2 separate regions of the Homo sapiens genome follow, and region 2 is linked to region 1. Evidence: fine-mapped expression QTL. A gene starts in region 1. The other region holds a variant in brackets. All regions are shown on one strand. Distances are from middle to middle. Region 1 holds the start of IFT25 (intraflagellar transport 25). Region 2 has its middle 21 kb from the start of DIO1.

Evidence for each region. PIP is the estimated chance that this variant, and not a neighbour inherited with it, causes the effect.
Region 2: its variant is the best candidate, but not a certain one, in a credible set for the expression of IFT25 in B cells (Fairfax 2012, PIP 0.74).

What each region holds. Positions count from the first base shown.
Region 1 is chr1:53,943,257-53,948,256 of GRCh38, reverse strand. It overlaps IFT25 (intraflagellar transport 25), which reads left to right and starts at 2,558. Exons shown (of 6, transcript NM_016126.4): 1 at 2,558-2,702. It overlaps LRRC42 (leucine rich repeat containing 42), which reads right to left and starts at 1,907. Exons shown (of 9, transcript NM_001256409.2): 1 at 1,708-1,907; 2 at 436-469. RefSeq lists a silencer at 1,592-2,661.
Region 2 is chr1:53,912,301-53,917,300 of GRCh38, reverse strand. It overlaps a transcript of IFT25 not described here. Among named protein-coding and RNA genes, the nearest start is that of DIO1, 21 kb to the right of the region's middle. The variant G/A (reference allele first, on the strand shown) is at 2,062.

The DNA of each region.
Region 1 (5,000 bases):
GAGCTGAATCTACGGCTAATTTGAAGAGAAGAAGAAGAAAATATCTAACTTCAGTAGATAAAGTAAGATAAAAATCCCCTAAGAATAACAAGTTGTAGCAGTAACTATGATGTTTAATGATACTGGATGATGGCTACCATTTATTAAGCACCTACCAGTTGCCAAGCACTGTGTTAGGTACTATATAAAATGATCTCATGTAATCTTTAATGATCCTATGAGGTCAGTATTGCCTTTTAATAGACAAAGAGACCCACGGAAATAAAATAACTTACTCTAGAACAGAGCTAATAAGTGGCAGAGCCAGAATTCAATCTCAGGGCCGCATTACTCCAAAGCTCAAGCTCTTTCCTTGGCATGATGCTGTTTCTCAAGACTAAAAATATGACATCAACCTTAAGGATAAAAAAAATGTGAAAAATTAATCTCACCCACCTGTTCGATCCCTCTAGTATTCACTGGATGAAGCCTGGGGGGAGGGGGTGGGGATAAGATTAAAAAACAAAAGCAAACAAAAAAACAGTGCACATCTGGGGAAAGAGCTAGTGGGAACACAGCCAGGACATTTACAACGAGGCCTCCCTTCTTCCCTCAGCCAGGCCCAAAATGAGCTACATCCATATACCAGGAGAACATCTGCCAACCCATGGCCTTCATCCCAAGGCTGCAGACACTTTTGGTTTATCTGAAAATGCAGTATTCTTGGGAAAATTTCTAACATAAAAACCTAAACAGAAACTAAACTATGGGTAGTTCTAAACCACCAATAACCAACAATCCACCTTCATTGTTCTGTGTGTCCCCATTCTTCAATTTTCAACTTTCCTCACTACTTTTTTCCTATAATATGCACTTTCCTACCTGCCTTCTCACCCATACCCTTTCAGGCTCCCTACTTCCCTCCAAGAACATGCCAGTCTCTCCCACAACGTGACACTCTTACCAATTCTAGCGCTTCTCACACCAAAAATCCTAACCCCACTCCCTTCGCCCACCCCAGCTCTCCTGCCCCTTTCAACCTTCAGACCCTTCCAGCCCTTCCGAGCCCCTGGTGAAAGGTGGCTTGCTGTCCCACAGACCCAACCTTCCAACCTCCGATCTCCCAACCTTCACCTGCCTCCCCTTCCTTCCCCACACTCCTCCACCCCCCACTCCTCTCCTTCACCATCTATTCTTCCCTTCTTCCCACTCTAGGGGCTTCCCTCTCCTAGGACCCCAATCTCTCCATCCCTTTCCTTGCCTTCTGTTCTCAATCTTCAAGACCCTCTTCCTTCACGCCTCACTATCCCCAACTTGGCATTCCACACCCCCAACTTTTCTTCCCTGCCCCCAAGACCCCACCCTCTCTATTCCTATCCTATCTCGTTTCCTCCTTGAACCCCTAAAATCCCATTCCCTTCCCCCTTCCTTCTTCCCGCTCTCTCCCCAAGCATGCCTCTCCCCGAGTCCACCCAGGCTAATCCTGCTCCCTGTCCCACCCAGGCCCCGAACCCCAATTCTCACACGTCCCCATAGCCTGCCCCCGCACCCCTACGCCACCCTTAAACCCATCGCCCCCACCAGTATACCTCATCCTCCCCTCAACCCGCGCCCCGCCGTCCCTCTGGGGCGTCCCCTCCCCCACCCCGCCCCTCCCTAACACCCCGCCCCCGCTCCCACACGCAACCCGGGGCCCCGCGAGCGGCCCGGCCCGCGGCCGCCACCTACCTGTGCCCCTGCCCGGGGCAGCGAGCGGCAGCTCCTCGGTGACGGCTCCCTCCTCCCGCGGCCCGGCTGACGGGGAAGGGCTCAGCACCCCGGGCACAAAGCTAGGAAGGGTGGGACACAGTGAAGGTGGGAGGAGGGAGGGGGCTGGGGGCAACCAGGCGCCGTGGGACCGCGGGACCGGCGGGGGCGGGAGCAAGGCTGGGCCGGGGAGGCGCGCGTGCGCGGGCCCCGGCACGAAGGCGGGGCCGGACCTGGAGGCGGGGCCAGGCCCAGGGCAGGCGACCCGAGGGCCGAGGGTTTGGAACTCGCAGAGGTGGGCCCTGCGCGTGCGTGCTCGCGGGAGGGTGGGTCCCCTGGGTCCTGCGGGCCCCGGGGATAGAGCTGAGCTGGGGGAGGGTAGGCAGCGCGCGCCCCGGGACTGGCCTGGGGAAAGGCGCACAGGAGTGGTTTCGCATCTTGGCCCGCGAAGTAATGGGAGCCGGAGAGGGCGGGGCCGATTGTGGGCGGGGCCTGTGGGAGGCGTGGCGCTAAGAGCTAGGGGTAGGAGGGGCCGAGGCCGCCGCGAGGGGGCGGGGCTGAGGCGGGGTGGGGCCTCTGGGAGGCGTGGCGCGAAAAGCTCGGGGTAGGAGCGAGCGCGCCCGGGAACTCGGTGGAGCGAGCGCGCCCGGGAACTCGGTGGAGGCCGCGGTGGCGGGGTGGGGCGGGGCTGAGGGCAGGGCGGGGCCTGTGGGAGTCGTGGCGCAAAGAGCTCGGGGTAGGAGCGCGCGCCCGGAAACTCAGCGGTGGCCGCGGCGAAGGGGCGGGGCTGAGGGTGGGACGGGGCTTGTGGGAGGCGTGGCGCGAAGATTTCAGAGTTGGAGCGCGCGCGACCCCGGACTCCACGGAGGCCGCGGCGAGCAGGCGGAGCTGCGGGTCGGGACGCTCTGCGTGGGGCGGGGCGCAAGGGAGGTTTCGAGCCCGGAAGGTCCGGCGCCCAGAGCTAACGGGAGTCCCAGGTGAGCGGGTAGCGGGGTAGGCAGGCTGGCACCAGAGGGTATGGGGGCCTGGCCGGGCAAGGCAGAAGGACGGGGATGTTGGTGGGAAGGGAGCAACAGTGGAGGGGTGGTGAAGAGACGCGCGGCGGGAGGCGTGGAAGGGCCGCGGCGGGAGGTCTGACGCGGGCCCGCCTTTTCCTCTAGACCCTGGAAGCGCCACTACCAGCCCACGAAACTCTTTGAGGCCAGAAATAGCGTCTTGACCCCCCAAAAGGGAAAACCAGTTGTAAATCGAAATTAATTAGTCTACCAAAATGTAATGTAAGCTGTCAGCCGCAACGTAACACATCTAGCTATAAATTGTACCTAAGGTCGGGGGCATTTATATATTCTTTACATAATTTGGGGCGGGCCTCCACAAGTCTGAGGCTTTAGGGCCTTGAACTGAGGAGGAGGGTTTGGGATGGAGGTGAGAAGGTGGTGCCAGGGCTGGTTTGCCTTGGAAGCCGTGGCCCTGGCCCCTCGGAGACAGAAGCCTTAGGCCGGGTCCGTGTTTTCTAAAGTACACCACGTTCCCAATGGATGATGCTTGAAGAAAGAGCGTGAGGAGTCCAGCTGTAGCACCAGAACCAAGGGAGCTGGTCAGGGAGAAGGTCCTCTAAGGACTTGACCTGAAGAGGTTTGGGGAAAGAAGGACCACAAAGGGCATGTGAGCTAGCGATGAAAGGGTGAACTGGGGACGAAACCAGTGGCACTGGTTTAGAAGACAGGATAAGGCATCAGGGAATACCAGGGTCAGGGATTGTAAAAAATGGAAAGGATAGCACCCCAGAGTGTACCACCTTTGGTAAACTGCGGCCCTGAGGAAATTGCCTTGCTCTAAAGGGGTGGGGGATTAGACTACCTCCCAAACCTGCACTTTGTTTTGTTTTTTGGAGACATAATCGCTCGTCGCCCACGCTGGAGTGCAGTGGCGCGGTCTCGCCTCACTGAGCCTCCGCTTCCTGGGTTCAGGAGCTTCTCCTGCCTCAGCCTCCGGAGTAGCTGGGATTACAGGCACCTGCCACCACACCCAGCTAATTTTTATATTTTTAGTAGAGACGAGGTTTCACCATGTTGGTCAGGCTGGTCTTGAACCGCTGGCCTCAAGTGATCCGCCTGCCTGGGCCTCCCAAAGTGCTGGGATTACAGGCGCCTGCCACCAGGTCCGGCTAATTTTTGAATTTTTAGTAGAGAGGGTTTTGGGGTTTCACCATGTTGCCCAGGCTGGTCTTGAACTTGTGAGCTCAAGCTGTTCGCCCACCTCGGCCTTCCAAAGTGTCAGGATTACAGGCGAGTCACCAGGCCTGGCATTGTATGGATTTCTCTAAGGTTGGTTGCCTCTTCTCATTAACTGCAACAAAGAACCTTAAAGAAAACCAAGTCTCTGCCGTTTCTACTTAAGTAATTCTACCCAAAACAGGAAATAGGAAGGGTAATGGTGAATATAGAAGGTGTGAAATGAGTTTTGTATTAAAGCATGTGTTTGCTTCTCTCAGAAAACTTAAGAATGTGAGGTAAGAAAAGAACTGAACATTTGGAGAGTACATTCTTTCCTATTCATCTGCTCCATATCAACCCTAAAGTGTAACTCTCTTTTAAAAAACAAGTTATCCGCCGGACACAGTGACTAGCTTCTGTAATCCCAGCACTTTAGGTGGCCAAGGCAGGCGGATCGCTTGAGCTCACGAGTTAGAGACCAGACTGGGCAACATGGCAAAACCCCATCTCTACAAAACAAAAAAATTAGCCGGCCGTGGTGGTGCATGCCTGTAGTCCCAGCTACTAGGAAGGCTGAGGTGGGAGGATCGCTTGAGCCCGGGAGGCAGACGTTGCAGTTAGCCGAGATCGAGTCATTGCACTCCAGCCTGGGCCATAGAGCCCAGACCTTGCCTCAAAAAAAAAAAGTTCTCTCCCTACATCTCCAACCCTCACATTTCCACCGCCAAATAGATTACTGCATAGTTTCCCCAGCTTTACACTATTTATACTTGGGACCAATAATTACTTGAGGATGTGCTGTCCCGTATATGATGGTATATTTAGCAGCGTTCCCTCCCAAGTTGTGACAGTTAAAACTTCAGATGTTTTGAAGTGTCCCTTGGAGGCCAAAATCTACACCCAGTCCAGTTGAGAACCACTGGAGTACAGGATAAAGTTCATTGCCATTAACCTGGCTTTTCAGATCTTTCATTATCTATTCCCAATCTACCTTTCCTAAAATCTGACTCAGCCTAAGAGAACTACCAATGCAGGAATCCTTTCTTTGGCTTCCTTCGT
Region 2 (5,000 bases), 31 kb after region 1:
AGGGTTAGTTGAAGAAGCAAATGTGGCAATAAATTATTGAATCTGGGTGATAGATATATGGAGGTTCATTGTAGGAGTATTTCTACTTATATATGCTTTAATTTTATTTATTTTTTTTTTTTGAGATGGAGTCTTGCCAAGTTTTTCTTTTTTTTTGAGATGTAGTTTTGCTCTTATCCCCCAGGCCGGAGTGGGATGGCGCTATCTTGGCTCACTGCAACCTCCGTCTCCCGGGTTCAAGCGATTCTCCTGCCTCAGCCTCCCTAGGAGCTGGGATTACAGGCACCTGCCACCACACCCAGCTAATTTTTTTGCATTTTTAGTAAAGATGGGGTTTTGCCATGTTGGCCAGGCTGGTCTCGAACTCCAGACCTCAGGTGATCTGCCCACCTCAGCCTCCCAAAGTGCTGGGATTACAGGTGTGAGCCACTGCGCCCGGCCCGGAAAAGCAAATTTTAAATGGAGAAGAGTAGGAAAGGCATTTCAAAAGCCACCTTGGTATACCAGATAAGAGATGTGAAGGTGAGTAGTCATTCATAATGATGAATTTGGGGAAAGATGAATAAAAAAGTCTGAGTAGAGCAAAAAGTGAAACTAAAACTGAACATTACGGCTAGATCACAGGCTTTCAGGTATTTTCTTGTAACACTGGAACCATTTAAGGTTTTTGAGAAGGAATGTGAATTATAGCAATTGTGTTCATGTTCAATAAAATGAAATGCTGAGCATTTTCTTTTTGCCAAGTTTCTAAATTGAAATGGCAATAACTCTTTGTGTAAGAAACACTGTGTTGAGGCTTACAGATTGCTAAAAGGGATCTCCAGAGGTTATCTGATTGATTTCTTTGGCACAGGCCTGGTGAGTTATCTTTAAGTCTTTTTTCTCTGTCTTCTGTGGATGCAGGAAACAATTGATGACTGTAGAACACCCATTTCATATACGGTATTTGAAAACAGCATGCTTTAAACTTCATTTTTCTAGGCTTTAAAAAACTCATTCTCATTATCACCTTAAACCACTCCACATTTCAGGCAATAGATATGATATGTAGCTTTACCTTTTTGCTTTGTTTTGTATTTCACTGCTGAACTACCCCAATCACCTCTTTTTTTTTTTTTTTTTGAGAGCAGGTCTGTTGCCCAGGCTGGAGCGCAGTGGCACAAACACAGCTCACAGCAGCCTTGACCTCCCAGGCTCAGGTGACCCTCCCACCTCAGCCTCCTGGGTAGCTGGGACTACAGACACATGCCACCACACCTGGCTAATTTTTTGTATTTTTATAGAAATGTGGTTTCACCATGTTGCCCAGGCTAGTCTCGAGCTCCCAGGCTCACAGGATCCTCCTACCTTGGCCTCCCAAAGTGTTGGGAATATAGGTGTGAGCCACTGCTCTCAGCCCCTCACCTTTTTAAACTCTCATTTGTCCTCAACTGGCATCCTCTTTCCCTTTCATGTGGCCTTTTCTCCACCTGCCCATGGACTCCTGACTGCCACTGTGCTGTGTGTACTATGTATTGAGGCCTTTGTGTTTGCTGTTTCCTCTGCCTGTAGTGCTCTTGCCACTGGTGTCAGTATAGCTGGCTTCCTCATTGACATCAGGTCCTTACACAAAATTTCCTTCTCAATAAGCCTTTCTCTGGCCTCCCTATTAAAATTAGAGTGTTCCTGCACCTTACCCTCGCAAGACAAACACATTAAATCTTTCTTCCCTGTTTTATTTTTCTTCTTTTCTTAGGTTAGGGACCTGACGCAGTCACCCTGTGTTCTGTATTTAGGAGTTCTTATACCTGACTCTTCATTTCTATCATTAAAATTCCACTTAAATTTTTTTCTTTTAATGATATTAATGATGGCCCAAGTATCCTTTGAAAGATGAGGGCAGTGCCACCTGCATTCAGGTGTGATCCTCTTGAGTAGGAGATTTAATCCAATTGAATTACTCGGGGCTCTCTCACCCTTATAGGGACAGCCCTGCTTATAACTGTCTAACGTATTTTTTCTGTTTACCATGTATATCATGTTTATCATCTCTCTCACTAGAATGTAAGCTCCCCAAGGCAG[G/A]GGGTTTTTTTGCTTCTGCTCATGACTGTATCCTCAGGGCTTAGAATAGTGCCTGGCACATATATTCTCAAGAAATATCTGTTGACTGAATAAGTGAACATCGTTCATTTATTTGCACGCCTATATCTCTTTATACTGTAGAATCTTTGAGGAGCTTTGAATAAAGCTAGTCAACAATATATGAATTTTTGGATCACTTACTGTGGACCAATGCCTATCACAGCGCCTTGCATAAAGTTTAAACCAGTAAATACTTATTTAAAGCGATGGATAAAAAAGTAAAAATTTAATGACCTTTTTACCATGTACCAAGTCTAGGCAAAGAAATATTACAGAAATGAAAATTGTGTTTATCACTCATTTATACAGATTTTTTTTTATAGCATATTGCATTTGTTGAGCCCTCTCTCAGGAATGCCTCTCTGCAGGGGTCAGGCTGGGGGAGGCATCCTTTGTGGGCTTCACCTTCTAGGTGATGTTCCAGCAACCCTTTGTAACTTGACCCTGATAGCCTTCTGGGAGATAGTGTGTGGCAGTGTACATCAAAGTTTTAAACATGCATGTAGTCTTTGACACAGAAATTCCATTTCTAGAAATATAGCCTAATAATCAGATAAAGGAATATACAAAGATAAGTGGACAAAGTTTATAGCAATGATGTTTATAAGACAGAAAAACTGGAAACTACTACGCAGCCATATATTAGAAAGTATGATATATACAAACATCATTTTATAATGGGATATGAATTTTATATATATACATATATATGTTTATAAATATAAAAATGGATACTTCTGGTTAAAGATGATGGGGTAAAGCGATTTTTACTCCATCCCCTTTCTCAAAACATTCACAACAAAAAGAATTATAAAAAGAAAAACATTTTATCTTCAAGGAAGCAGCTATAATCCCTAACATCAAAATGGGACGCCCACTCACTAAGTACTGTGAAATGAGGATTTTGGTGAAGGAAGAAGCTGAGAACTGGCATATGTTCTCTCAAAGCTAGAGACTTTATTAAACGTGTCATGGTTATGAAAGGCTTATCCAACAGTCCCTTGATTAGATTGAAGAGGGCTGCAGGTGGCTCAGGAGGATGGAGAATGTCTCCAGAGAGCCTCGAGGTTAATAACAGAATGGCAGGGAAGATGGAGCTGGAGAGAATCAGGCAGGATACACCAGAGGAGACTGCTGGAGGTAAAGCATGATGAAGGAAGTTGTCTTAGCTCCAGCTGCTGTAACAAAATACCATAAACTGGGTAGCTGAAACAACAGACATTTATTTTCTCACCACTCTGGAGGCTGGAAGTCTGAGATCAGGGTGCCGGCATAGTTTCTGGTGAACCCTTTCTTCCTGCGTTGTAGGTAGCTGCCACCTTGCTGTGTGCTCACACGAGCTCTTTGTGTGTGTGTGCAGAGAGTGCACTCTGGTGTCTCTTAAGGGACACTATTCCTGTCTTATCAAGGCCACACCCTTATGACTTCATGTGATTTTCATTACCTCTATATAGGCCCTGTCTCCAAATAAAAGGAGGTTAAATCTTCAACATATGCATTTTGGGGGTTAGAGGGGCACAATTCAATCCATAGCAGAAGGTGAAAAAGCATCCAAAGTAAAGGGAGTGTAACTGAAGGGGATTTCCCTGAGCCCCATCTCAAAGGAAGGAATTTAGTTAATAATAGGCTACTCAAGACAGCGAATGTCAATGAAAGTTGCAGATTGCGCCACCTGACTCCTCATCCCACACTATGTTTCAGCAGATAACAAGCCCCACTAATGAAGACTCATAATCAGAAAAGACCCAGAAGGGGACTGCTCTGGGTCAGGTTCTCTAGAAGCAGAGCCTCCAACAAGGATTCTTTGAAGAGTGATTTATTGAGGGAGCGCTCTCAGGAGAAACCTCTAAGGAAGTGAGAGAAGCAGGATCAGGCAGAGGGAAAAATTAAACATGGCTTCTGCTGAAGTCTAGCCTCAGTCTGATCCCATAGGGAGCTCTGAAGCATGACTGGCACCGGAGAAGTAGACTGCCCCACCTTGCAGCAAGGGAAAAGGCTTTGGAATTTCAAATCCATCAGTCACTGGCTGTGGGCCACACTCAGGTGAAGGACATAATTTCACAGGTATTTCTGGGTAAGATAGCTCCTGTCATGAGGGCAAATTCTCAGGAAAGAGTGCATCTGTGAGCCATTAGCAGCCAACACTCACAGCAGCTGGCTCATGAGTACAATGGCTTGGTAAAAGGCATCTGGGCAGAGCACCAACAACACCTACTATAGCAGCGGTTCTCAAAGTGTGGTTCCTGGGACAGCAGGATCAGCCTCACCTGAGAACTTGTTAGTAATGCAAATTCCCTAGCTCAACCTCAGATCTGTCGAATCGTAAACTCTGGAGATGAGAACCAAGAATCTGTGTTGCAGCAAGCCCTCCAGGTGATTTTGTTGCATGCCCAAGTTTGAGAACCATTGAACTACACTGGCCTATGGCTAGCAACTGTAAAACAAAAGGATTGGAATTGAACCCAAACCTCTTGCAGTCTCCTGCACATAGCCCTTTTCCCACCTTTGCCCTTGTAGTTCTCCTCACTTGAAATGCCCTTCTCCCTTCCCATCTTCTCCAGGCTCCCATCCCAAATTATGGAAGTACTGGGCATCTTTGAAGACCAGCTCAAATGCCACCAGCTCCAAAAAGCATTGTTGGATTCACCCAGCTCAGAGGATTGCTGTCTCCTCTGTGCCCTCTGAGCACTTAGTCTTCACTCTAACATATACTCCACCTTGAGTTATGGTCATTGGAGTGTATGTCTGGTCCCCTGTGAGATTAAGCTGCTGGAGGACAACAGCTCTTCCTCGTCCATCTTTGCATAACTCTGCACCCAGAAAAGAATCAATGCTCAATGTTTGATGCATTAAGTTGAAGAGAATCTAATTGGAAAGCC